Linked DNA regions of Homo sapiens: regions 1 and 2 are each linked to region 3. The links come from fine-mapping of genetic effects on gene expression. A gene starts in region 3. Each other region holds a variant in brackets. All regions are shown on one strand. Distances are from middle to middle.

Evidence for each region.
Region 1: its variant is fine-mapped to the expression of KCTD3 in whole blood (TOPMed, PIP above 0.99).
Region 2: its variant is fine-mapped to the expression of KCTD3 in esophagus mucosa (GTEx, PIP 0.98).

The regions. Positions count from the first base shown.
Region 1 is chr1:215,495,204-215,503,414 of GRCh38, forward strand. No RefSeq gene overlaps it. Among named protein-coding and RNA genes, the nearest start is that of KCTD3, 68 kb to the right of the region's middle. The variant G/A (reference allele first, on the strand shown) is at 4,605.
Region 2 is chr1:215,586,676-215,594,886 of GRCh38, forward strand. It overlaps KCTD3 (potassium channel tetramerization domain containing 3), which reads left to right. Exons shown (of 18, transcript NM_016121.5): 9 at 1-10. Among named protein-coding and RNA genes, the nearest start is that of KCTD3, 23 kb to the left of the region's middle. The variant C/G (reference allele first, on the strand shown) is at 4,379.
Region 3 is chr1:215,562,824-215,571,034 of GRCh38, forward strand. It overlaps KCTD3 (potassium channel tetramerization domain containing 3), which reads left to right and starts at 4,481. Exons shown (of 18, transcript NM_016121.5): 1 at 4,481-4,945. The coding sequence starts at 4,863. LOC124904599 (a long non-coding RNA gene) reads right to left here and starts at 4,534. Exons shown (of 2, transcript XR_922599.2): 1 at 4,457-4,534; 2 at 3,604-4,311. RefSeq lists a silencer at 4,613-4,882 and an enhancer at 4,695-5,555.

The DNA of each region.
Region 1 (8,211 bases), 68 kb before region 3:
AGATACTTATGATTTAATATTTTTAAATTTTAAAAAGCTAGAAATCATCTATGTAGTAGAATCCCATTTCTTTGATAAATGTTTAAAATTCTACTATTACATGTTATTTCTGCATCCAAAAAGAGGATTCTACAAGGACACATACCAAAGTATTATCAGTGGTTCCCTCAGGATTGGTTATTGGAGGCTGTAAAAAAAGGACTGTTATGTTTTCATATAAATGTTCTGTATTTCATGGAATTTTAATAATTACATATTTTTCTTTACTATAAAACAAAACAATAAAGTAGAACTAATTAGAAGGATATGTAAATAATTGCCTTATTTTCAAACTGTAATTTAAATCACATGAAGAGTCAATTTTCAAGGTAATGTGACTTGAACTGTCATTAGCTAGTGATTGTTTCTATGAGTAAAAAAGTGAAATGAAACACTGACATAGAGGTTATAAGGTATAAGGTATATGTACGATTCAGAGAAATATGATAGCATAAACCAAATAATGGAGAATCTGAATTTATGCTTATTCTGCAGTCCAAAGTATTTTCTGAATCTTTCTTACAATCTCAACGCCCTTAGAAATGAACTAGAATAATCATATGGCAGCCCACCGCTCTCCTTCCCATTCAATCACTCTTTGTAGAAAACTAATCTACTTTCTTGCTTTGGGCAAATAAATAAGGACAAAAATTTAAAATTCTGTCTATAACCAAAAAGTCAAAGTTTGCATACATGAATTCTCTAATAAGTTATTATTACTTTTAGGCTTAAAAAAACAAAGAAATTTTAAGAGGCCATTTTCTCCTGCTAAAATCCAAATGATTTTTTTGCACTATTTATCAAATCTGGTAGTAGTTATTGGTATTCTTCCAGCAATAATTATGGAATGAATTAATATTGATATAATCTATATATTCATATTAAATCAGTACAGGAAGTCTAAATGATTATGGTAGCACTATAATGAAAAAATTAAATTAATTTCTCTTTCCATTTGCAGCTTTTGCCAAGGATCTATTTGACTGCCAGAATACAGCTTTTTTTTCCAACTCTTATTCTTGAAGGCTTAAAATTGAATATGCATGATATATAAACTAGAAATTTATACGAATATTATAAACAAAATAAAAATGTTGCCAATTATTTTATTTTCCCTTTCTCTAGGGTGAATTTATCAGAAATACTTTCTTTAAGAAGAATTATGAAGTAAGTTTTGTTCTAAGCCACTAACATTTTGTGCGCTTTAAAATTACCTTTTTTGGTAGAAGGATCAGAGAGCTTCATAAATACTTTTAGCCAGAAGGTAAAGCTGAGACAATAAAATGCAGGCAGTGAATGTCACATAGTGAGCCTTTTACAACACAGATTTGTTGATTTATTTATGTTGCATTTACAAGTTCTCTGAATGTGTTTATATATTTGTATATAGGTTGAATAGGCTACAACAATGAAACTTCTTTCTCAGGATTAGGAATGAAAGCTCCATTTATTATTGAGAAATGAAGTTTATGTGAGAAATAAAAGGTGAATCCATTTTAAAAATAAAAGCATATACTCAAAATATCACCTCAAACTAGTAGAAAAAGTAAATGGTAGTAACACATCTTTGGGAGAAAAAACACTGGTTAAAAGGCTGAGGGTTGATTGAATGCCAGAGAGCACTTCTCCCCTTCCACACAGTTGTCATGCTGTGACTATATATAAAAATGTCAGAAGTGTGTGTAGTGAATATTAGTCGTTTTGTTCCTTGATCGATAAAGAACGTATTCTTATGTTTTGAGAACTTTCCATCATATGAATCTTTGTTTTTCCCTGGATATAGAAATTATGAAGATCCTAGGGTTCCCGGGTGTAACAAATAAAAATACAGGGTACCAAGTTAAAGTTGAATTGTACAGAAACAGCAAATGATTTGTTAGTGTACGTCCCAAATAAGTGTGTCTCAAACAAGTATGTCAAATTTTACAAACATCGGGGCTCCTATTTTTTATTCTGCAATACTAGAAGACAAGATATTGGCTTTCCAGCCTCCTGTGAAAAGAGAATGTGACATGTGATGGGCATGTGACCTAGGATGACCGACCAATTAGATGCACTGCTTCGAACTTGGAATTTTTTTTTTTTTTTTTTTTTTTGAGACAAAGTCTCGCTCTGTTGCCCAGGCTGGAGTGCAGTGGCACGATCTCGGCTCACTGCAACCTCCGTCTCCCGGGTTCAAGCAATTCTCGTGCCTCTGCCTCCCGAGTAGCTAGGATTACAGGCACCCGCCACCACACCAGGCTAATTTTTGTATTTTTAGTAGAGACATGGTTTCACCATGTTGGCCAGGCTGGTCTCAAACGCCTGACCTCAGGTGATTGACCTGCCTCGGCCTCCCAAAGTGCTGGGATTACAGCCATGAGCCACCACGGCTGGCCCAAACTTGGAATCTTAAGAAGCAAGAACAGTGGAGACCCCGTGTAGTCAGTAGTAGCAGCAGCAGAGGCAGCAGCAGGTGTCCATGGCAACAATGACGATTCCGTCCCAGTAGTAACAACAATGAAAGCTGTTTAATCCCAGGTCCAGCAGCAGTAGAAGCAGCTGCAGGGACTTCACCACATTATTCTGTAGTATGATTTTGATGCTTGGTCTCTTTTCTTCCTGCCCCATTTCCATGTTCAATCCTTCAAAATTCTTGTTGGTTCTTTCACCTAGCCAACGTCCCTTAAGCAAATTCCTTTTCTGTTTAAATTGCCCAGAATTATGTTTTCATTAACGAATAATATTTGTACATATGTATGGGGTACATGTGGTATTTTATTGCATGCATAGAATGTGTAATGATCAGGCCAGAGTGCCTATCACCTCCAGTGTTTTCATTTCTATCTTTTGGGAAGATGTCAAGTCCTCTCTTTTAGCTACTTTGAAATATACAATACGATGTTGTTAGCTATAGTCACCTTACTCTGTTATCAAATATTAGAACTTACTCCTTCTCTCTAACTGTATGTTTGTGCTCACTAACCAACCTTTCTTCATCCCTCCTGCCTCTAACCACAAACGTTTCTCAGCCCCTGGTATCAATCGTTCTACTCTCTACCTCCATGAGATCAGCTTTTTTTAGCCAGGCATCCTCTTGAGGAGGATAGAATCTTCTCTTGTTTCTAAGAGCAGGAGAGCACAATATTAAGAGTATGGACTTTAGAGACATGTTCCCTGGATTTACAGCCCAGCTATACCGCTTACTACCCAATGACCTTAAACAAATTACGTACTTTTTATGCACATCAATAAAGCTTCTATTTCCATGTCTGTAAAATGAGCAGAGTAACAGTGTCTATCCGATAGGATTGCTTTGCATTTCAAGTTACTAAATATTTAGAGCAGAGACTGACAGATAGTAAGCACTATATATATGTTTTGAAAAACACAAAAACTAAAACTAAAAATCATCATTCACAAACCCAAGTTGTATGCAGAGGAAAAACCAACCATTTTTAATCAGACCATATTGATTATTTCCTTAAGGTGCTAGAAAAGGGTTTCAGAGGAGGCTTAATGTGTAATAAGCCGTTCCATTACTAATACAGGTTAGAGCAAGCAAAACATTCATATTAGTACTCAGACCTCTAGTATTACAATATTTTTCTGCCAGAACCCTGTTAAGGTAGTGAACTTCGTTAACCTTATTTGAAAGTGAAGTAAATGAGATTTGGAAGGGACTACAAAACTTGTATACCACAAAACATCACCCCACCAGCTTGTATGGTCTTACAGATTTAGTTATTATTGGACTGAGCAGGAAAGAGTGGAGGTGGAGTGATCAGATAGCTAAAATATCATTTGCAATTTCATAAAGGGGAGTTTATTTGACTAATTAATTTGTATTACAGGTCCAGGGGTAACATCATACTGGATTTGGAAGTTTTAGTGGGGTCAATGATGAGAAGCAAGGTGATGACAAACCTTGATGAAAAGAGAGCAAAGCATGAAGTGTGAGGTCAAGAGCAGAACACAATAGACTGAGATGTCGGGAGCCTGAATGGGAAGAGGAAAGAGGGTATGATACCTCCAACTGACAAATTATTTTTAATTGACTTATTTATGAAATACTTATTGTCTCCTCTATACCATATATAAATTTATCTAGAACCTGTTCTATGGCAAAAAATAATTCAGATTTATAATACATACCAGTAATGAAATAAATGTAAGCCTTGCCCTAGTGCTGATCCTGCTTATGTTTCCTTTAATCAATGTGCCACAAAAGCAGTAGACTCCAAAAACCCTTTGGCTTACACTAGAGTCAAAAACATTCTTCTCTTAGCAATTCATTTTGGAATTCTTTGAAGAAAGCCCAGTGGTATCTTTAGAAAATATGTTGATAAGCAGCTTTGCATGAGGGTGAGACCCTAAGAGGCATACTGGAGGGAGTGGAAACATAGATATTAAATTCCATGTATGTCTCTATTAAGCTTAGGACAGTGCCCAGGACACAAAAGAAGCAAATTATTCCACTGAGAATTTCGTAAACCGATTTTGCTCAAAGCTCTTTATTCTGTCAGTGGTTGAATTTCAGTAGGGAGTAAAGACGATTTATTTATAGTTTTTCAAGGCATCACCCC[G/A]CTAAATCCCCTAGAAGTCCCACTCCTGGAGAAAGGGTCTATAGTTGTATAGATTTATGCCGTGCTGTTATATTTTCTTTGAATAGTTTTGTTTATCTTCAAATTATTTGGCTTAGTTGGTACCCCTACTATGAGACTTCTACCAAAGAGTAAATAAAGCAATTTATTTACTTAAGATTAGTGGTTCAATATACCTCTTTAATGCAGAAGTTGATAAGTAATATGTCATTGAGGAAGGTAGTCATGGACAGACCTCTTATCAGCTTTCACATTTTCAGAGAAAAAAAAAAGATCTCAGTGAGACTAAAAGTTTGAAGATGAATTTGGATTCCAGAAACGAAGGAATTTTTGTGTCAGATCAAACTCGACAAGGATTATTTTGGTACCTATCACGTGCCAAACACAGTTTTAGAGTTTTTCAAGTGAGGTACTTTAATTTTCACAAAAATAGTGTGTGTTGCTTTCATTTCACAAAAGAAGAAGCAGGTTATAAAAATATATTCTTTGGGTGAACAAAAGTTCCATGAAGCTAGAATAGTCTTCTAATTTTAGAGATGTGGGTACCAAAATACAGAGAAGTTTTTACTTAAAATCACTCATCAAATTCAAATACGAAGTTGATTTCCACTCCATTTCTGTTCCTATTTCACCATATGACTTGCATTCCAAGCCAGAACTTGTTTATTGTGATTATATTAGCACACTACATTTCAGAAGGAAATCTCTCTTTAATCTGTAACATCGATTTAATTATGTGACATGTAGAGGTCACAAAATTAAAGGTAGGAACTTTAAGATATGTGTTTCATGAGACAGTGATTTTGTTCTTATCATTGAGTAAACAAAGAAACACATTTCAATGTGGGCCAAAGGTGTAATTGTCAAGGTACATTGTAAAGTCAATATCCTTCCTAACTAATCTAGTCTCAATCTCTCTAGATAGATAGGCCATACACAAAATTCTATACATATATAGGTATATGTGAGCACATATACATACCTATATATGTCTACACACATATATGTATATACACAAATATATACATACCTATATATGAATATCTGTGTACATACACATACCCATATATATACAGACACACACATCTAGTGGGTGTGTGTATGACATACGCAAAATGTATGTCCATGACATTATTGTCATGGTTTTTGTTTTTGGTTGGTTTTGTTATTTTCATATAATAGTTCTCAAAGAACATTCAATAAGCTTCTCCTGTATGAAAAGCACAGGGCTAGGTATTTTACACATAATTTTCTCATTTATAGTCCACAGCAACTCTACATGGTAAAGATTATCTTACAAATTTTGGACTCAGTAAGGTTAAGTGCTTTACTCAAGATCACAGGGTCATAAAATAAAGAGCTGATGTTACAAGTTGGGTGTTTCTCACTCCAAAGCCCGTGTTCTTTTTATCATATGATAAAACACTTCAAATGCGCAATTTTAACTTATTTTGGTATTTTGTGTTTTGTTTGGTATAGGTATTTTAAACATATTTTAAATATTTGGGACTTGGTATTTTATATTTTAACATATTTTGACTTATTGGTAGCTTATTCACCAATAATTTTGTACAAGTAAGCCATACTGCACATTCATACATAGCAAAGGTATTCACCAAAGGTCTATAAGGTACCAGATTCTGTTCTAAGTGCTGCTGATGGAGCAGTGCACAAGAAAGACAAATTTCTGTTTTTGTGCTCCTACATTCTAGTGGAAAGAGACAGAAAATGAACAGGTGGTGAACAGAATAAAGATAATACAACAAGTGGTAATATGTTTCATTAAAAAAATAAAGCAGAGTAAGGGACGGACAGTGACTGAAAAGGGTGCTGTTTATTTAACGTAGTCATACATGCCATTCCGCTAAAATGGTATTTGAGCAGAGACCTGAAGAAATCAAGAGTAAGCCAAGTAGGGGCACGTAGGGAAAGAGTGTTCCAAGCAGAAGAAACAGGAAGTATTAGTTTCCTAGGGCTGCCACAACAAAGTGCCATAAACTCACTGGCTTAAAATAATAGGTATTTATTCTCTCACAGTTTGGGAGGCAAGAAGTTCAAAATTAAGGTGTCAGCAGAGCCATGCCCTCTCTGAAGTCTGTAGGGGAAAATTCTTCCTTGCCTCTTCTGGCTTCTAGTGACTCTTGGAAGCATAGCCCCTATTTCTGCCTCTATCTTCGCATGGTTTTCTTTTTTCTAGTGTCTCTCTGTTTCCTTTCCTTGTCTCATAAGGATACACTCATAGAATTTAGGGCCCACTCAAAATCCAGGATGACTTCTACTCAAGATTGTTAATCAATTACACCTCCAAAGACCCTATTCCCAATGTGATCCTATGCTACAAAGTATAAAATCCCTGAGGTGGAAGCACATTGGAGGGGCAGCAAGGAGGCTTGTGTAGCCAGAGAAGAGTTTGGGGGTGGGTGGAGGAAGTGGTAGTTTACAAGATCAGACAAGTCCTCTGGGTTAGTGGGCAGGTAGATGGTGGAAGCCTGGCATGCTCTGTAAGAGCCTCGAACTTTAATCTAAGTAAGCTGAGTAGTCTGTAGAGAGGGAATTTTAGGACAGAGGAGTAACAGGAGTAATGAAATCCATAAAGGATCCTCACTCTGGCTGATTCTTAGAGAATGGAGTGGTTGGGAGAGGGAAGAAGCAGCAGAACCAAATAAGAGGCTTCTATGTTAAATTCAGTAAAATGTAACCATAATGTGATCAGAGTAGTGGTAGCAGAGCTGGTGACAGTTAGTCACATTCTGGGTCTACTTTGAGAATATGGCTGACAAGACCTGCTCCTGGATTAGATATGGAGTGTAAGATAATGAGAGATTCAAGGATGAAGCCAAGAGCCTTACCTGAAATTCTTCAGAATGGAGCTGGTTTTACTGAGATGGGAAGTTGTAGAGGAGGACCACATTTGGCCTTGGGGCCAAGAGTCTAAAGCATGTTTTGAAATGTTAAATTTGAGATGCTGATTGTGCATTTAAATACAGAAAAAGCATAGGCAGTAAAGGAATATTGAGGGCTAAGTTTCTGGACCAATAATTCTGCTTGGAAAAAAACTTTAAAATATTATAAAAGATGGATACTTTAAAAATCTTAAGAGTATTAAAAAGCTAACAAGATGCTAAACAATTAAAGTTGAAAATATAAATGAAAGCAGAAACCAGAAAGGAATTCAGAGAACTGAAGCTGCTTTTGTTGTCAAAGTTTTTACCAATCCAGAGGAATTTGAGCTTTGGCTGTGACAGCTGGCTTTTGATAGCTTCACAAGAAGTAATGCCCAATTGAGGTAGAAAATTTGATAGGAGATCTACCCCTTTAAAGCTGGTAGCCTAAGGGCTACACTAGGAAGGTGCAGATAAACCTGATCTACACCTCACCTCCAGTGAACTGCAAGGAGAGTTATCCTGGCACTCAACAGAGCAGGGGTTGGGGAGCAGATGGAGAGAAGTTATCACTAGTGAGTTGTAACCACAAATCTACCTTGCCCAGATTGGTGCCCAAATCCACATCATTTAGGTTATTTTTTTAAAGTTCAAGTTATTATTTCAGATTTAAGTGGTTCGGATAGGTAGTCAACTAGCCTCTTACC
Region 2 (8,211 bases), 24 kb after region 3:
AGTGAAATTGGTAGGAAGAATCTTGTTTATGTTGCAATTTGATGATATTAATATTTTGAAGTTTATAAAAGAGATTGACACTGAATATGAAAATTAACCTGGACTGTCAGTTAGCTAGAGCTGTCACAGTATTTAATGTGGGAGGAATGATCTGATAATGAAGGAAAAATGATGTTTTAGAAAAGACATGGGGAACATCTTTTCACCACTTTAAGTGAAACCTGGCTGCTCTATGAAAATATTGCTTTTCCTGAATCCCACTTAGTGGTGGATGTTTTCACTGTTTTCTCTCCACCCCTCTCAAACTACTGAACCTGAATGTGGGGTAAGTCACTTTCTTGCTCCTCATTGTTGCTTCTAGACCAGACATTCCCAAACTTTTTGGTTTCAGAACCCCTTAATCCTCTTAAAAAGTTACTCAGGACCTGAAAGAATGTAGGTTATTTTCTTTTTTTTCCTTTTTTTTTTTTTTGAGACTGAGTCTCGCTCTGTCGCCCAGGCTGTAGTGCAATGGCATGATCTCAGCTCACTGCAACCTCTGCCTCCTGGGCTCAAGCAATTCTCCTGCCTCAGCCTCCCAAGTAGCTGGGACTACAGGCACATGCCACCACGTCCAGCTAATTTTTTTGTGTTTTTAATAGAGATGGGTTTCACCATGTTAGCCAGGATGGTCTCGATCTCCTGATCTTGTGATCCGCCCACCTCGGCCTCCCAAAGTGCTGGAATTACAGGCGTGAGCCACCATGCCCGGCCTTTCTGTAGGTTATTTTCTATCAGTATTTACTATATTAGAAATTAAAATGGAAATTTTTATAAATGTTAATATAGTTATAATAATCCATTGCATAACTTAAGTAACATTTTTAATGAGAACCTCATTTTCCAAAAATGTGTGAGAAGAATGGCATTGGTTTACAGTTTTGTAAATCTCTTTTTGAACTGTGATATCTATTTCTGCATTCAATCTGCTGTGATACATTGTTTTGATTGAAGTATATGAAGAAAACTTGATCTTACACAGATATGTAGTTGGAAAAAACTTTTTTCAGTCTTTTCAGAAAATTGTGCATAGTCTTCTTTGATTCTTTATCAAAACTCTAAAATCATATCAGTGAACTTTTCATATTCTGTTAAATTAAAATCCATCAGACTATTTTGTACTTTGAGTGGATCTTTTATCATACATGCTTTTATAAGATGTTGGGCATTTGGAAATTGTTGGTTTGCTGAGTTATGTAGATCTACCAAATGTTGATACCTTTCATTGTATAATATGAAAAAAAATTGCATTCATTGGTATCCCTGCTGACTACGTGTGAGGGAGTTGTCACACTCACTGTGGCAGATAAAAGTTTTCCAAACTGCAGATTTTCACTTGAAACGTTGAATTTTTATCATTGGCAACAAATAACATCAGTGGTTTTCCTTTAGATAACAGGCTTACTTTGTTTATTTTTTGAGGATAGTTCTGCCAAACACCCAATTCTGAATAACCATAGTCATCTCAAATTAAAATGGTACTTAATGAACAGAGCAGCTCCTGTAGCTCTTTGCTCCAGCATTTGTGAAGGTGCTTTTCCTTGACATAGCCATAGTACTTAGTCATACAGAATATTAAGATATATAGTTGAAATTAAGTTTTTATCAGTACAAATTTTTACTGCTTCATCAAGGACATTCTTTAGTTACTAAGACCATTACATTCTCTGCCACAGACTTTCGGGAACATAAAAGGCCAAATCTTTAATTTAATCTTTAAATCTTTGATTTGGCCTTTTATGTTCTTGAAAGTCTATGGCAGAGAAGAATGCAATGGTCACTAGTAAAGTTTAGTGCCACTGTCCTGGTTTGTGCTAAGTAAGGTACCTGCTGTTTTTACCAAACGTTGCTTTGCATCATCAGTGTAAATGTCAACACAGATGTTCTAGAATAAGCCATGAAATTCATATAAGTTTTCAACACTTTGACTATTTCAGCACTTCCTGTGTTTGTAGCTATGCATTCACATAAAGGATTTTTAATGATCAGTTGGAGCTAATACCAGATGGGTACAAGTAAAACACCAGGTCTAGCTAATACCAGCTGGATACAAGTAAAATACCAGGTCCAGCCACATCTATATATTCATCTGTTTGCAAGGCAAAAATACAATTCTACAGACAAGAGATTGACTCTCTGCCAAATCTTTAGATTGAAGAGTTACTGTATTATTGAAAAGTTACCATGTTATTTCTTCATGGACTTTTCATCTAGCAGGCATTCAGCATTGTCATCTGTTCAAGGCTTTATTAGTCTCTCAGCAATTGGGTATACTTCTCTAGCCACTGTGATGTCGTAACTTACCTTTGAGATACTTCATTAGATTTTTCATTTCTAGTTTGAAGGTCTATACCAAACAATTTCTGGATTAAATGAGTTTTTTACATCTTTATTTAAAATACTTAATTTCTTTTTCTTCTTTTCTTTCCTTTTTTTTCTGAGACAGGGTCTTGCTCTGTCACACAGGCTGGAGTGCAGTGATGTGATCCTAGCTCACTGCATCCTCAACCTCCTGGGCCCAGGCACTCAAGCAGTCCCCCCACCTCAGCCTCCTTAGTAGCTAGAACTACAGGCAGGCACCACCACGCCTGGCTATTATTTTTTAATCACTGTATAGATAGGGTCTCACTATGTTGCCCAGGTCTTGAATTCCTAAGCTTTAGTGATCCTGCTACCTTGGCTTTCCAAAGTGCTGGGATTACAGGCATGAGTCGCTGTGCCTGGCCAATTTCTTTTTGTTTAAACTCTTGGGTATTCAGTCTCAGTGAACCTACAACCGATAGATACTATGCAAAAATGTTTTGCTACATAAAGCACAATAAGGTTAAGTTATTAAGATCTATAAAGTTGAGGGAAGATTCCAGATTCCCAGAAGGAAAGAAGGTGTCCAACATAAACTGCATTGTTTATGCAGTTAGGCTTTTTGTCACCATAGATTAGGTTTCCTTTATCTAGAATTTCATGAGTAGAATTATATAGTATTTATTCTTTTGTGCCTGGCTTTTTATTAAGCATAATGCTTTTGAAATTCATCCATGTTGTTGCATGTATCAGTTGTCTGTTCCTTTTTATTGCTGAGTAGTATTCCATTGAAATAATACGGCAGAATTTGTTTATCCATTCACCCGTTGATAGACATTTGGCTTATTTCCAATTTGGAGATATTATGAATAAAGCTGCAGTTAACATTCAAGTAGAAGTCTTTCTGTGGACATTTACTTTCTTAAGGTAAATATATAGGAGTGGAATTTCTTAGTCATATGGAAAGTGTATGTTTAAGGTTAAGAAAAACTGCCAAACTGTTTTCCAAAAGTACCTTTTTACATTTTTACTTGCAGTGTGTGAGAGTCCCAGGTTCTCCACATCCTAATCAACACTTTGTATTGTCAGTCTTTTTAATTTGAGCCATTATTGTGGATTTTAATGGTTCAGTGATTTTAATTGTGGCTTTAACTGCATTTTTCTGATGATTAATAATATTAAGCATCGTTTCCTGTACTTAATGACCGTTTGTATATTTTCTTTTGAGAAGTGTCTCTGTAAATCATTTGCCCTTTTTAATGAGGTTGTCATCCTGTTACTTATTTGTAAATGTTTTTTACATATTCTAGATTTGTGTTTCACAACCAAGGAAATCTTATCCACCAAAGGATATTTGAAAATGTCTAGAGACATTTTTGGTTGACACAGTTGAGGGAGGCCTGTACCTGTCTCCCTTCCTCTTTTCTCCATCTCTCCCTTGCTCGCTCCCTCTTCCTCCTTTTGAGCTTTCTAGATCACTTTATATTAACCTGGGGTTGTGGGAGCCCTGATTTTTTATTTCATTTTTTTCTCCATTCTTCAGTTTAGATATCTTTTATTGATCTACCTTTAATGTCTTTTATACTTCTACAGTATTCAATCTGCAGTTAAGTTCATCTAGTGAATTTTCATCTGAAATGTTGGACTTTTTAGCTCTAGTATTACTTTTTGATTCCATTTTCTAGTTTGTTTCTTCTGCTAAGATTTCTTGTCTTTTTGTTCATTATGTTCAGCTGTTTAATTTGTTAAAGTATTTGTCTGCTAATATCAATATCTGGTTACCATGTTTTTATTTTGGGTCACATTTTCCTGTTTCACATGTCTAGAGAGTTTTGATTATGTGCTGTACTTGTGTGTGATACATTTTGTAGGGTTATGAATTATGTTACCTTTCTTTAAAAGTTATGAGCTTTGTTCTGGCAGGCAATTAAATTACTAAAGGATCTTGAACCTGTTAGGCTTGTTTCAGTACTTTGTTAGGAGTAGGTATCCTCTTCTAGCTTTATTTGTAATTTTAGGGCAGGGCTCCTTTTCAAGG[C/G]TGTAGTTCTTATTTTTAAGATGTTGCTTTTCTGGAATCTTATTTAACTGAATGCCAGAGGGGCTCAGCAAGAACTCTCTACTTTTATTGAGTTGGAACTACTCCATCTACCCACATATGACCTCTGATATCTGATATCTCCAGTTACCTTAGTCCTAAAGCAGCTATCTCCCGTTACCTCTTAGTCCTAAAGCAGCCTTTCTTTCTTTTCTTTCTCTCTCTCTCCTTCCTTCTTTCCTTCCTTCCTTCCTTCCTTCCTTCCTTCCTTCCTTCCTTCCTTCCTTCCTTCCTTCTCTCTTTCTCTCTTTCTTCTCTTTCTTTCTTAGACAGAATCTCACTCTGTCTCCAGGCTGGAGTGCAGTGGCGTGATCATGGCTGACTGCAACCTCCGCCTCCCAGGTTCAAGGGATTCTCCTGCCTCAGCCTCTCGAGTAGCTGGGACTACAGGCACATGCCACCACGCCCAGCTAATTTCTGTATTTTTAGTAGAGACAGGTTTCACCATCTTGACCAAGATAGTCTCGATCTCTTGACCTCGTAATCCGCCCGCCTCAGCCTCCGAAGTGCTGGGATTACAGGCGTGAGCCACCGCGCCCGGCCAGCAGCCTTTCTTTCCTTGAGGATTCTTGCCCTGCCCAGGTGCAGTTAGGCCTTAGCCAAGGTCTTAGGGAAACGCTTATGCAACTTTTATGCCACCCCTCTGGCACAGTTCCCTTCCTTCTTGTACTGTATCTACTAACTCTAGCCTCAAGTTCTTCGCCTCCTCAGTTCAGGGAAATCATCTGTCTTTATTTGGTATATTAGTCCGTTTTCACACTGCTGATAAAGACATACTCAAAACTGGGAAATTCACAAAAGAAAGAGGTTTAATTGGACTTACAGTTCCACATGGCTGGGGAGGCCTCACAATCATGGCAGAAGGCAAGGAGGAGCAAGTCACATCTTATGTGGATGGCAGCAGGCAAAGAGAGCTTGTGCAGAGAAACTCCTGTTTTTAAAACCAGATCTTGTGAGACAATCCATTCCCTATCACAAGAACGACAAAGGAAAGACCTGTCCCCATGATTCAGTCATTTCCCATGGGGTTCCTCTCACAACACCTGGGAACTACAGGAGCTACAAGATGAGATTTGGGTGGGGCACAGAACCAAACTGTATCACTTAGGTCTCACCTTTCTATGCTGTGATAGAAAGTACTCTTATGCAGCAAGCCAGGGGGAATGTGGGGCTTGTCAGTGTGTTTCTGTCTCTCAGGTCCTCTGCTGCCTGTTGTCCAATACCTAAAAACAGTTGTTTCATATATTTTGTCCATTTTTTTTTTTGTTGTTACTGCTGTTTTAAAGTGGAGAATAATCGGGTGCCATTTATTCTATCGTGATCGACAGCTTAAGTCCTCCCAAACAACTTTAAGAAAAGAAAATTTAACATAAAAAATTTTGAAATTATAATACACTGGTAATTAAACAGAAGGTAAATCAGTTGTGATTTCTTTTTCCTTTTTCAAGTAGCTATTTGTAACATACCAATAAGTGAAAGAAATTTTATTACTTGCTTGGTGTTCAAAGGCTAATGTGATAGGTAGCTATGTTATGAGCTGGTACAATAGTAATTTGTTCATGCCCTGTAAAAGGAGCCATTTGTTGTTAACAAATATTCTTCAGAACATGACAACACTATCCAAAGAAAATTGTTAGGGCTGGTATATCCATGATAAAGCTCTCCCAGAGGCTGAACTCCCTTCATTATAACTTAGATAAGACGAGAGTTACTGGGTTTCTGCTATAAGCAATATTTTACCAAGAGGGCCCCTTAAGACAGGAACTGGTCATTACTTCTGTTGTCTTCCCTGTCACTGGTGCTCAGGATTGTTTAGCCTAAGCAGGAGTGACACTTTAAATTTCGTGAGACCATTCAGAGTGTCTTTGTTGATTTCCTAGAACCTCATCCTCCTCTGGAGTAATCGATGTTAGTTGGTTTTCCTGTTTTCATTTCTGCCTTTCACATAGCCCATAATACTGAATATAGTTGGCTTCACATGTTCTAAAAAGACATGTTCACATTGTTTGTTATCATCATTAAAGTACTATTATGTAGAATCCCTAAAATTGTATACAACGTAAAATAATGACTTTATGCTTTGAAGTGGCAGGTTCATTTCTTAACCAATTCTGGGCAACGGACTTAGCTTTGTGTGTGTGTGTTGTACTTTATTTTGTTCTAGTTTTTTGGGCTGAGATAATGTGTTTCATGCACATGCTTGTATAAATATGGATTTTATACATATAATTAAAAATGTTTATATAGAAGATACTTCTAACAATACTTAGCAGGTTTTTTGTTTTGGTTTCTTTTTGTCATGTATCGTCTTCTTGCTAGATGCCTTGCTTTTACAAGACTGATTAAAAGTTTTCAAGGTGTTGTTTGTCACTGGTCTTGAGTATAGTACAGTTCTGAACAAAAAGAGAATACCTAGCACCAGTATAAGATTCAAAAGAAATCAGTAATCTTTCTGGCTTATGCTTTTAAAGCATGTTATATTTGCATTTAGTTGCTTTGTTTTTCCCATGAGTTCTTCAAGGTTTCATGCATTTTTTTTCTCAGCTAAATGCTGACGAAGTTGTCTGTATTGGCACAGGTACTTTTTAAAAATAAACTGATACTTGAAGCAGCCAAAGATCTACATAAAACAGTATTGTAGAGGTGAGACTTATTTCCCAGCATTATTAGATAAAAATATATTTCCCATAAAGTGTTTTTCAAATGATTAAGATAATGCTATTTAAGTGCTAGAATTGGAATACAACTTTTTTTTTTTTTTTTTTTTTGAGACAGTGTCTTGCTCTGTCACCCAGGCTGGAGTGCAGTGGTATGGTCTCGGCTCACTGTAACCTCTGCCTGTGGGTTTAAGCAATTCTCCTGCCACAGCCTCCCCAGTAGCTGGGATTACAGGCGTGTGCTACCATACCCAGCTAATTTTTGTATTTTTAGTAGAGATGGGGTTTCAGTGTGTTGCCCAGGCTGGTCTTGAACTCCTGACCTCAAGTGATCCACCCGCCCTGGCCTCCCAAAGTGCTGGGATTGCAGGCATGAGCCATCATGCCCGGCCGATTATAACATTTTTAAGCTCAAGTGATCATTGAAACATTTAGCTTAGACCCTATTTCGTAGTTGAGATAAGAACCAAAAAAGTGGCAAACAAAGGTACTCTGAGAGCCAGGATCCCAACCCTGGTTCTCCTGACTCCTAGTGCAGTACTCTGCTAAAGAGAGACAAGTGTATAAGGCCAATATGCCGCACCAAGGTGAGCCTAGAATTCTCTGCTTAGGCATTGCTGGGTCTTTTGCTACTGATGTGTGATAGGTGCTGCTTACAACCTCTCTCACCTACACTTACTCTTCTGTTTGCTCTGATTCCCTGAGCTTGCCCATATTCAGTCTCCCAATTTGATGGACTCCTATTAACCTTTAAAAACTCCAACTCAGATGGCTTCTTTTCTAAGATATATTTTCAACCCCCTTTCCATACCCTTTTTACCCCATAGATACTATTATACCCTGTGCATCCTTCTGTTATTATTGTATCAAATTATAATTGGTTGCAGTTTTTTCTCTACTAAAGTGTAAGTTCTTAGTAATGTCTTGTCTTCTCGTGTTTTTTAATCCTAAAGCCTGATATAGTGTCTTTTGAATTAATTAAATGGAGATTGCAGTGCTGGAACACATGGGGTTTAAAAATAAGCTCTGAGTAAAAGGCCCGAATGTTTGTTTTTAGTATCATGTGACTTCTTGCTGCTTTTTTCTCCTTTTTGCTTATTTCCAGAATTTAGACACATT
Region 3 (8,211 bases):
AGCAAAACCCCACCAATTATGCTTTTTCTCCCACTTCTGCACTAGAACTGCCCTTACTTCCACCACACTATTTTTCTTCATGTCACTAAATCCAAAGTCAATTCTTAGTTCTTATCTTACTTGTCCTGTGATCTCATAGGACCCCATGCTCCCTTGGTTTTCCTCCCATCTGGCTGAAACTCCTTTCTAGTTTCCTTCACTGGAACTCCTCCCCAGTCTCTTAATATTGGATAGTCAAGGGCTCCATTCTGATTTCTATTTTTGTCTCATTCTACACTCACCTCCTTATGATTTTAGGCAGTCTCATGGCTCTAACAGCCATCTATATACTACTCATTCCCAAAGTTTTATTTCAGTAAAAATAAGAGAATTTTTAGCTTAGTTCTCTTTCTGAAACTTCTAGGTCCTTTATACAACAGCTTACTCAACATCTTACTTGGATATCTAATACAACGCTACTTTAAGTGTGGTTACTACTTTTAGTGTACTACTTTTAGTATAACCACACTTCAAGTAAATGCTACTTTAAGTGTGCTACTTAAGTGATAATAAACACTACTTTAAGTGTGGCCACTTAAGTGTGGTTCATGAATTGATGCCCATCCACAAACTGTGAATAGTCTGCAATTAAATAAGCACAAAAATGAGACTAAGAGGTTGGAAACTTTTTTTTTTTTTTCTGAGATGGACTCTTGCCTTGTCACCCAGGCTGGAGTGCAGTGCTGCAATCCCAGCTCACTGCAACCTCCATCTCCCAGGCTCAAGTGATTCTCCTGCCTCAGCCTCCCGAGTACTTGGGATTACAGGAGCGTGCCATCACGCCTGGCTAATTTTTGTGTTTTTAGTAGAGACAAGGTTTCACCATGTGGCTAGGCTGGTCTCGAACTCCTGACCTCAGGTGATCCGCACACTTTGGCATCCCAAGTGCTGGGATTATAGGTGTGAGCCACAGTGCCCGCCCGAGCTATATATATATAAAGGGGAGTTTACCCATCACAGAACTAATGGAATATACATATATATATTCCATATATATAATATATATTTATAAATACATATATTATAAAACATATATATATTCCATTAGTTCTGTCCCTCTAGAGAGTCCTGACTAAATCACCCCATAAATTGGAAATTGAACTAGTTCTTACCTGAGATAGTTTGACAAGGACTGGTCGAGTAGACATCACAAATTCAATATAGTCACTAAAGAAGGTAATATTATTTAAATAATGTTTTATTTACTTTGTATTGCCTAAATATTAAAATAACATAAACTTTAAAAAGCTGTCATGGGGACAACCTTGAATGTATCTACTCTATTTATTTACACATTCATACATACATACAGGTAGTACATGAAAGAAAACTCACTGTAAACAGTTAAACAATATGAAAGACCATAGGGGTAAAAGGTTTTGTCCATTCACCACTGCTACCTTCTCCTCACTGATTCTAATGATCTGTCTAGAGGTTATGTTTCTTCGTAGTTTAATATGTATTTTTATATAGAAATATAAGTGGATATACACATGATTTTAGTTTTTCCATTATTTAAATGAATGAGATTGTACTCATAATGTATTATTCTGTAATCTGATTATTTTCCCCACTAAATCATATACTTGGAGATCATTTCTGGTCAGTTCACATGAATTTGCCCCCAAAATAGTAATAGCTTCCAACATAATTTTAAAAATTATTCCCTTGTTGTTGAATATTCCATGTTTTTGCTATTATAACACTACTACCATGAATATGCACTTACTTCTTTGCATGTACCTTTGCCAATTGAGCAAAATGTGTATAGGATATATTTTTAGAAGAAAAGTGCTGGGTCTAGGGTATTTACATTTAAAATGCTGATATTCTTGAGGTGCCCTCCAGAAACTCTGTACCCATTCATAATTTAATCAGCAATGCATGAGTATGATCATTTCACACTCTCACTGTCCTTGAATTTTATCAAACCTCTCTTAATTTTTGCTAATCTCATGAGTAAAAATACATTTTTTGTTTTATTCATTTATTTATGTATTTATGTATTTATTTTGAGATGGAGTCTCGTTCTGTCGTCCCAGCTGGAGTGCAGTGGTGCGATCTCAGCTCACTGCAACCTCTGCCTCCCAGATTCAAGCGATTCTCCTGCCTCAGCCTCCCCAGTAGCTGGGACTACAGGCGCGCACCACCACGCCTGGCTAATTTTTGTATTTTTAGCAGAGACGGGGTTTCACCATATTGGCCAGGCTGGTCGCGAACCCCTGACCTCGTGATCCACCCACTTCGGCCTCCCGAAGTGCTGAGATTACAGGTGTGAGCCACTACACCCAGCTTTCTGTTGTTTTAATAAGCATTTTAGTGTTTTTATCAATTGGCTGTTGATATTCTTTCCATATTTTTCATTACTTGTTTTCTCAATTTATTTGTAGAATAATATATACATATATGATCAGATATTATATATTTTCAATCATTTGATATATGTTGCAAATATCTTTTCTCATTCTGCTATTTGTTTTTGTTAATGGTGTTCCAATTTATTCTTAAAAATTAAGTCACACCCTAACTTTAAGTTTTATGAGCAAGAAATGCCTCAGATATCTCTATATTGTTCTGGACATATCAAGAAGTCATGACCATTTGTCTTATAAAATACTGAGAACTTTTCCTTCTCTTGAAGAGATGTTCTCCTAATTTTTAAGTACAGTATAATAAAATGAACACGGTTTCATTTATTTCAGGAAAAATAAGAAGCCTTTCACAAATATATATATTTTTAAATTTATAAGGCCTTATTCTAACTCCAACTTGCCTCTTGGATTCAAAGGCTGTTAGCAACTATTCTTTCATATTCTTCCAAGGTTTGGACCTAAGGAAAATTAAATGGCCCTTTTACCACTTAAATCTTCGCTGCAAATTTTAAAGCAAAGTTTCAGATCCTGATAGAACCAGATATTATGTGTTAGGGCAAAGGCAGTTAACATTGTTTAAAGCAAGCTTGTCCAACCTGCAGCCCCATGGGTCGCATGCAGCCCAGGAAAGCTTTGAATGTGGCCCAACACAAATTCATAAACTTTCTTTCTTTCTTTCTTTCTTTTTTTCAGCTCATCAGTTATCGTTAGTGTTAGTGTATTTTATGTGTGGCCAAAGACAATTCATCTTCCAATGTGGCCCAGGAAAGCCAAAAGATTGGACACCCTGGTTTAGATTCCTAGTTGCTGCTGCTTTAATCTGAACTGTTACTCATCTTCCCTGTCTAAAGTGAAGATAATGAGGTACAATGCAGTGGTAAGGATGGTGAACAGTGGCCTTGAATTCAAGCTGCTTGCCTTGAAATTCCTGCCATCCCACTTGCTACCTATGTAATTTTGAGCAAGTTTTTTTGATCATTTTCATTCCCAAATTTCCTTTTTTAAAAATAATTATAACATTAGTTGTGACGAAGAAAGATGACAAAATATCTAAACCACCGGGTATATGATAAACACAAATTAGCTATTATTAAGCTTATCATCAACTGGGAGAAATAATACTTATCTTACATCCATATGTACTATTAACATCTTTCAAGTCGAATCTAGATAGAGCATATCACAACATTAGTATGCTTGCCAGAGGCTATTTTTTATTTTTTTGGTAAAAATTATGACAATGACAATAAAAACTTAACATCAGATACATTATCAGTTTGAATTATTATGATACAACTATGACAAAACAATTCATGTTAAGAATTTAGTACCACAAACTAATGACCTCTGAAACATAACGCACTATCTTTGTTAGTCTTTGTTAGCAGGGCATCAAGTATTATAGTATTCCGATTTAAAAAATATTTTAATAGCCACTAAGGTTTTGGGTTTGAATAGATACCGTTTAAAGCAAAAACAAATAAATAAACAAGCGCATAAAATTGTGTGTTTTCTGCGTGTGTCTAACATTAGTTGAGTGCTTACTATATTCCAGAAATAGGTTGCTGGGCATTACACAGTCTAGGGGTTTTTGTCCTTTGGTTTCCTTCCTGCTTAACAAACAAAAGCAAAAAACAAAACAAAAAAACTGCTTGGGAGATTGGGGATTAAATTGAAGAGGGTAAAGTAAGCAGTTTTCTGGGGTAAACGCTGTAAGGTTTTAAAATCTCCAAATGTTCCCTGCATTTGCACTGTCTACATTTAGGCATCAACTTTTACTACCTCTAGGATTAGTTTTTCCTTTCCCAATCCATGTTGACAAAGTGGGTCATAAAGATCCGTAGATCGTTTGCCCAGATCTGCCCTCAATCTGCGAATCAGCTTCCTCGTTTTAGAAAATCTGAAATGTAAAAGGGAAAGGGGCTGGGATCGCGTGGGGAGGAGGAACGAAATGGAATCCCGCGTGGGCAGGCGGCTGGCCAGGAGCACATTCCCCTAGCCTCCCTACGCGCCAGCCCCGCGGCGTTGGGAAGCTCCTCCCTGACCTTTCCTTCCTCCTCCTCCTCCTCATTCTAGGCGGCAGTGGCGGGCGAAGCGTGAGCGCTGCGGTATTTTGTCCCGAACGGTGACCCCTCCTCCCAGGCAGGCTGCGGCGGCGTCGGTGGCAGCGGAGCACGGAGAAGAGGCCCGGGCGGCCCGGCGGCCTGGAGGCCGCGAAAGGTGGAGGCCGGGCCGCCCTTGTGCACCGCAGGATTGACCCGGGAAGGGGCAGAAGCTAGCGAGCCCCGCCCGGCCGCCGGGAAGGTGGGGGAAGCCCCGTGCACCCCCCGCCCTCCGGCCGCCGCCGCCCCGCTGGCCCTGCAGCCGTCGCCGCTGCCTCGGGCTACAGCCCCGGGCTCGGCGGTCCCGGCTGGGGAAGGAGGGCGGCGAGCGCGTCCGGAGCCGCCGGAGATGGCGGGAGGGCACTGCGGCAGCTTCCCCGCGGCGGCGGCCGGCAGCGGCGAGATCGTCCAACTGAACGTAGGGGGGACCAGGTGAGTCGGCGGGTAGCGGGCTTGCAGCGGGGATGCCTTGGCGGCCTCCTCCTTTGGTGTCGACGGGGACCGAGAGTCGCAGGAACGAGGGCGAGCGTGGGAGGCCAAGCCTGGAGGGGAACGTGGGGGCCTCCAGGCGGCAAGAACGTCGGGCGGATTTTGGAGCTGGTGAAGCATCTGCTCTGGGAAGGGAGAGGCAGAAGGGACGCTTGGAATTACCGAGGACCAGGCCCATGTGGCAGAGTAGCTGCTGTCCTAGAATGCCAACCTTTGCCCCTCCCAACAGGCAAGGAGAACCATTACACAGCCTTCCTTACCTCATCTCAGATTAGAGTGTATTTGAGGACTTTATTTAGTAGAAACCTGGCTTTGTGGTTTGGATGTTGGAGATGAACTTGCTTTCCTTTCTCTTTGGTCAACGAGGTGTCGGTTTTCTTAGGGAAGAGTGCGGTGTTCTTTTCCGCGCCTAATTAGGGGATTTGTAATTTGAAAGATTTCTGTGATGGGAGTGCAGTAGGTTTGCAGTACCTAGTTATTTATTTTCAGAATTTCTTGGTGCATGGGCTTGAAGGATCTGTTCAACTTCTAGGACAGTGTGTCCAGAAACTGCAGTTTGAACATTTGCTTTTAGGAAGCTCTGGATATTGGCACGGTGTGACGCCCTTGGAGTAAACAGACTGAATGCTCTTCTCTGTCTGTTCTCTTTCTGGCCTTCCGCCCCCCCCCCCCCCCGCCCCTTCTGTGCCTGTTATTAAGTTTGTTGGGGGAAAAAATCGTAGTTTTTGTGGATTTCCTATAACTTATGAGTCACTCCTCTCAGAAAAGGGAGTTTGCCAGCTGTTTGAAAGAAGGATTAGTTGAGTTTTAGGCTTGGTAAGGAGATAAACAAGGAAATGCTCTGGAATACAGTTAATTTTTCTGTGCTTGAGAATATGATTTTCAACCAGCATTTTAAAAGTATTTTAATGTCTTAGAACCATAGTGATAAAAAATGTCTACTGTAGTGCTTTAATCCTAAACATTTGATAGCTTTCTAGAATTTAACACAGAAAACCATGGTACTTCGTTCTTAGGGTTTTTCCTCTTCCCCCAAATCAAAACTTAGATAATTTACAACGTTATTGCAGTTGTATAGAAACCAGTCTTATGGAGATTTATGTCTCCTAATGTAAGAAATGGAGTTTTTCCTAAAATCACGTTAAAATATTGGAAGTTTGGTAACTTGTGGAATACCCCTAAAGAGGAGGCCTGCAATGTGTGTTGATTATACTGAAGAGTAGCAGTATAATCATTTACAATCCCTACACTGGTTTCTACTTGCTATTGATAGTTAATGTATTTCTTTTCTTTAATTTTCTTTTTTTTTTTTTTTGAGACGGAGTCTTGCTCTGTCGCCTGGCTGGAGTGCAGTGGCGCGATCTCGGCTCACTGCAGCCTCTGCCTCCCAGTTTCAAGCGATTCTCCTGCCTCAGCATCCCGAGTAGCTGGGTCACAGGCGCGCGCCACCACGCCCGGGTAATTTTTGCATTTTTAGTAGAGACGAGGTTTAACTACGTTGACCAGGATGGTCTTGATCTCCTGACCTCGTGATGCTCCCGCCTCGGCTTCCCAAAGTGCTGGAATTACAGGCGTGAGCCACCGCGCCTGGCCGATAGTTAATATATTTCTATTCAGACATTCACAAGGACATACAGTATTATTGTAAAAATTAAGCAGTATTGTTATTTACTATGTGGATGGCTTAATACTGAGTGAACTCTTATTAGAGACTGCAGAATTCATTTAAAAGTTTTAACTCATAAGGCAGTTATCTTGGCACTGTAACTTTTTTTTTTTTTTTTTTTTGAGACAGAGTCTCGCTCTGTCATCCAGGCTGGAGTGCAGTGGTGCGATCTCGGCTCACTGCAAGCTCCGCCTCCCAGGTTCGCGCCATTCTCCTGTCTCAGCCTGGCACTGTGACATTTTATCTTGTGTTTACATTATTTATGAAACTTGAGCTTATCAGGTTCTAATTTTTTCTAAGTGATATTAGCAAAGATACAAAATAGTACATATATTACTGGTTTGAACAGTTTACAAGACATGAAATTGTTAGTGGGAATGGAAACATTAAAAAACTTCAGAAAATTGTTAAGATAAAATGGCTTATAAAATAAGTAGTAATGGTATGGCCCGTAGAAAACAACATCCGACTCCATATTCTAAGAATATTTTCTAGATTTGCTTTGAATCCTACACTCGTGCAGCATTTTAGAGCTAGATGAGATCTAGAAGTCACCTGTATCTTGTACAAAACACAGTGTAACATAGTCACTTAAGCCACTGTAAGAGAAAAATCCTGATATGATTGCCACTGAAGTTCAGGAACTGCTGTGGCATAGAATTGAAGTTCTGAAGTGATAGAGTAAAACTCAAAAGGAGAGTTTGTTGGGAGCAGAGAAGCATATGCTATCGGTAAGGTCTTTTTTTTTTTTTCCCTCAGGAGAATAGACATGAAAATGGATATACTCAAAGGAATTATAGAAATGACTAATTTTTATGGTTTAATACTTTGTGGGTGATTCAGAAAGTAGAGTAGATGAAGTTTCATTTAGAATTGTTAGTATTCGTTATTTACAAAAAGTAATGAAGTGAATTCACTATGACTGAATTTATGATTAATTCTGTTATGGGCAAGTGTGATTTTGGGCCTCATGCAAGAGGGCTGGGACTAGCCATTGAGGACTCCTGGACAAAGAGCTTTTGAGTCAGGTATATGTTTCCAATTCCCAGGCTTTATCTCTAACTAGCCTAGCAACCTTGGACAAATATTTTGATACTTAGTCTATTAAAATGTAAAGTGACAGACAGTAGTACCAATCTTATCAGATTGTTATAGGAATTTGAAGTAATAAATGTGAAATGCAAGGGTTAGTGGCATTATCAGTACTTACAGTGCAGAATAAATAACTAGTTAGATTGCTACCAAGTTAATTTAGTAGGAGGCAAGTTGCATGAAGTATAACTGTGGGTATGCAAATTTCTTTAGTCCTTTGCTGAAACCAGATTGTACATGACTCTGTTCTTGGGACACTATGGGTATGGGATAAAAAACAAATCAAAACAGAAAAGGCTTTCAAATGATTATGCTCATCATGTGTAATTTTAAGTGTGTTAGTTTTCATGAAGTTATATTCGAGACTGGTTTTGGGGCCAGAAGTTTAAAAAAAAATTGGTGGGGATGAGGGTCTAATTCCTTTGCCCAGAAATTCCAGGTTACTAACCTT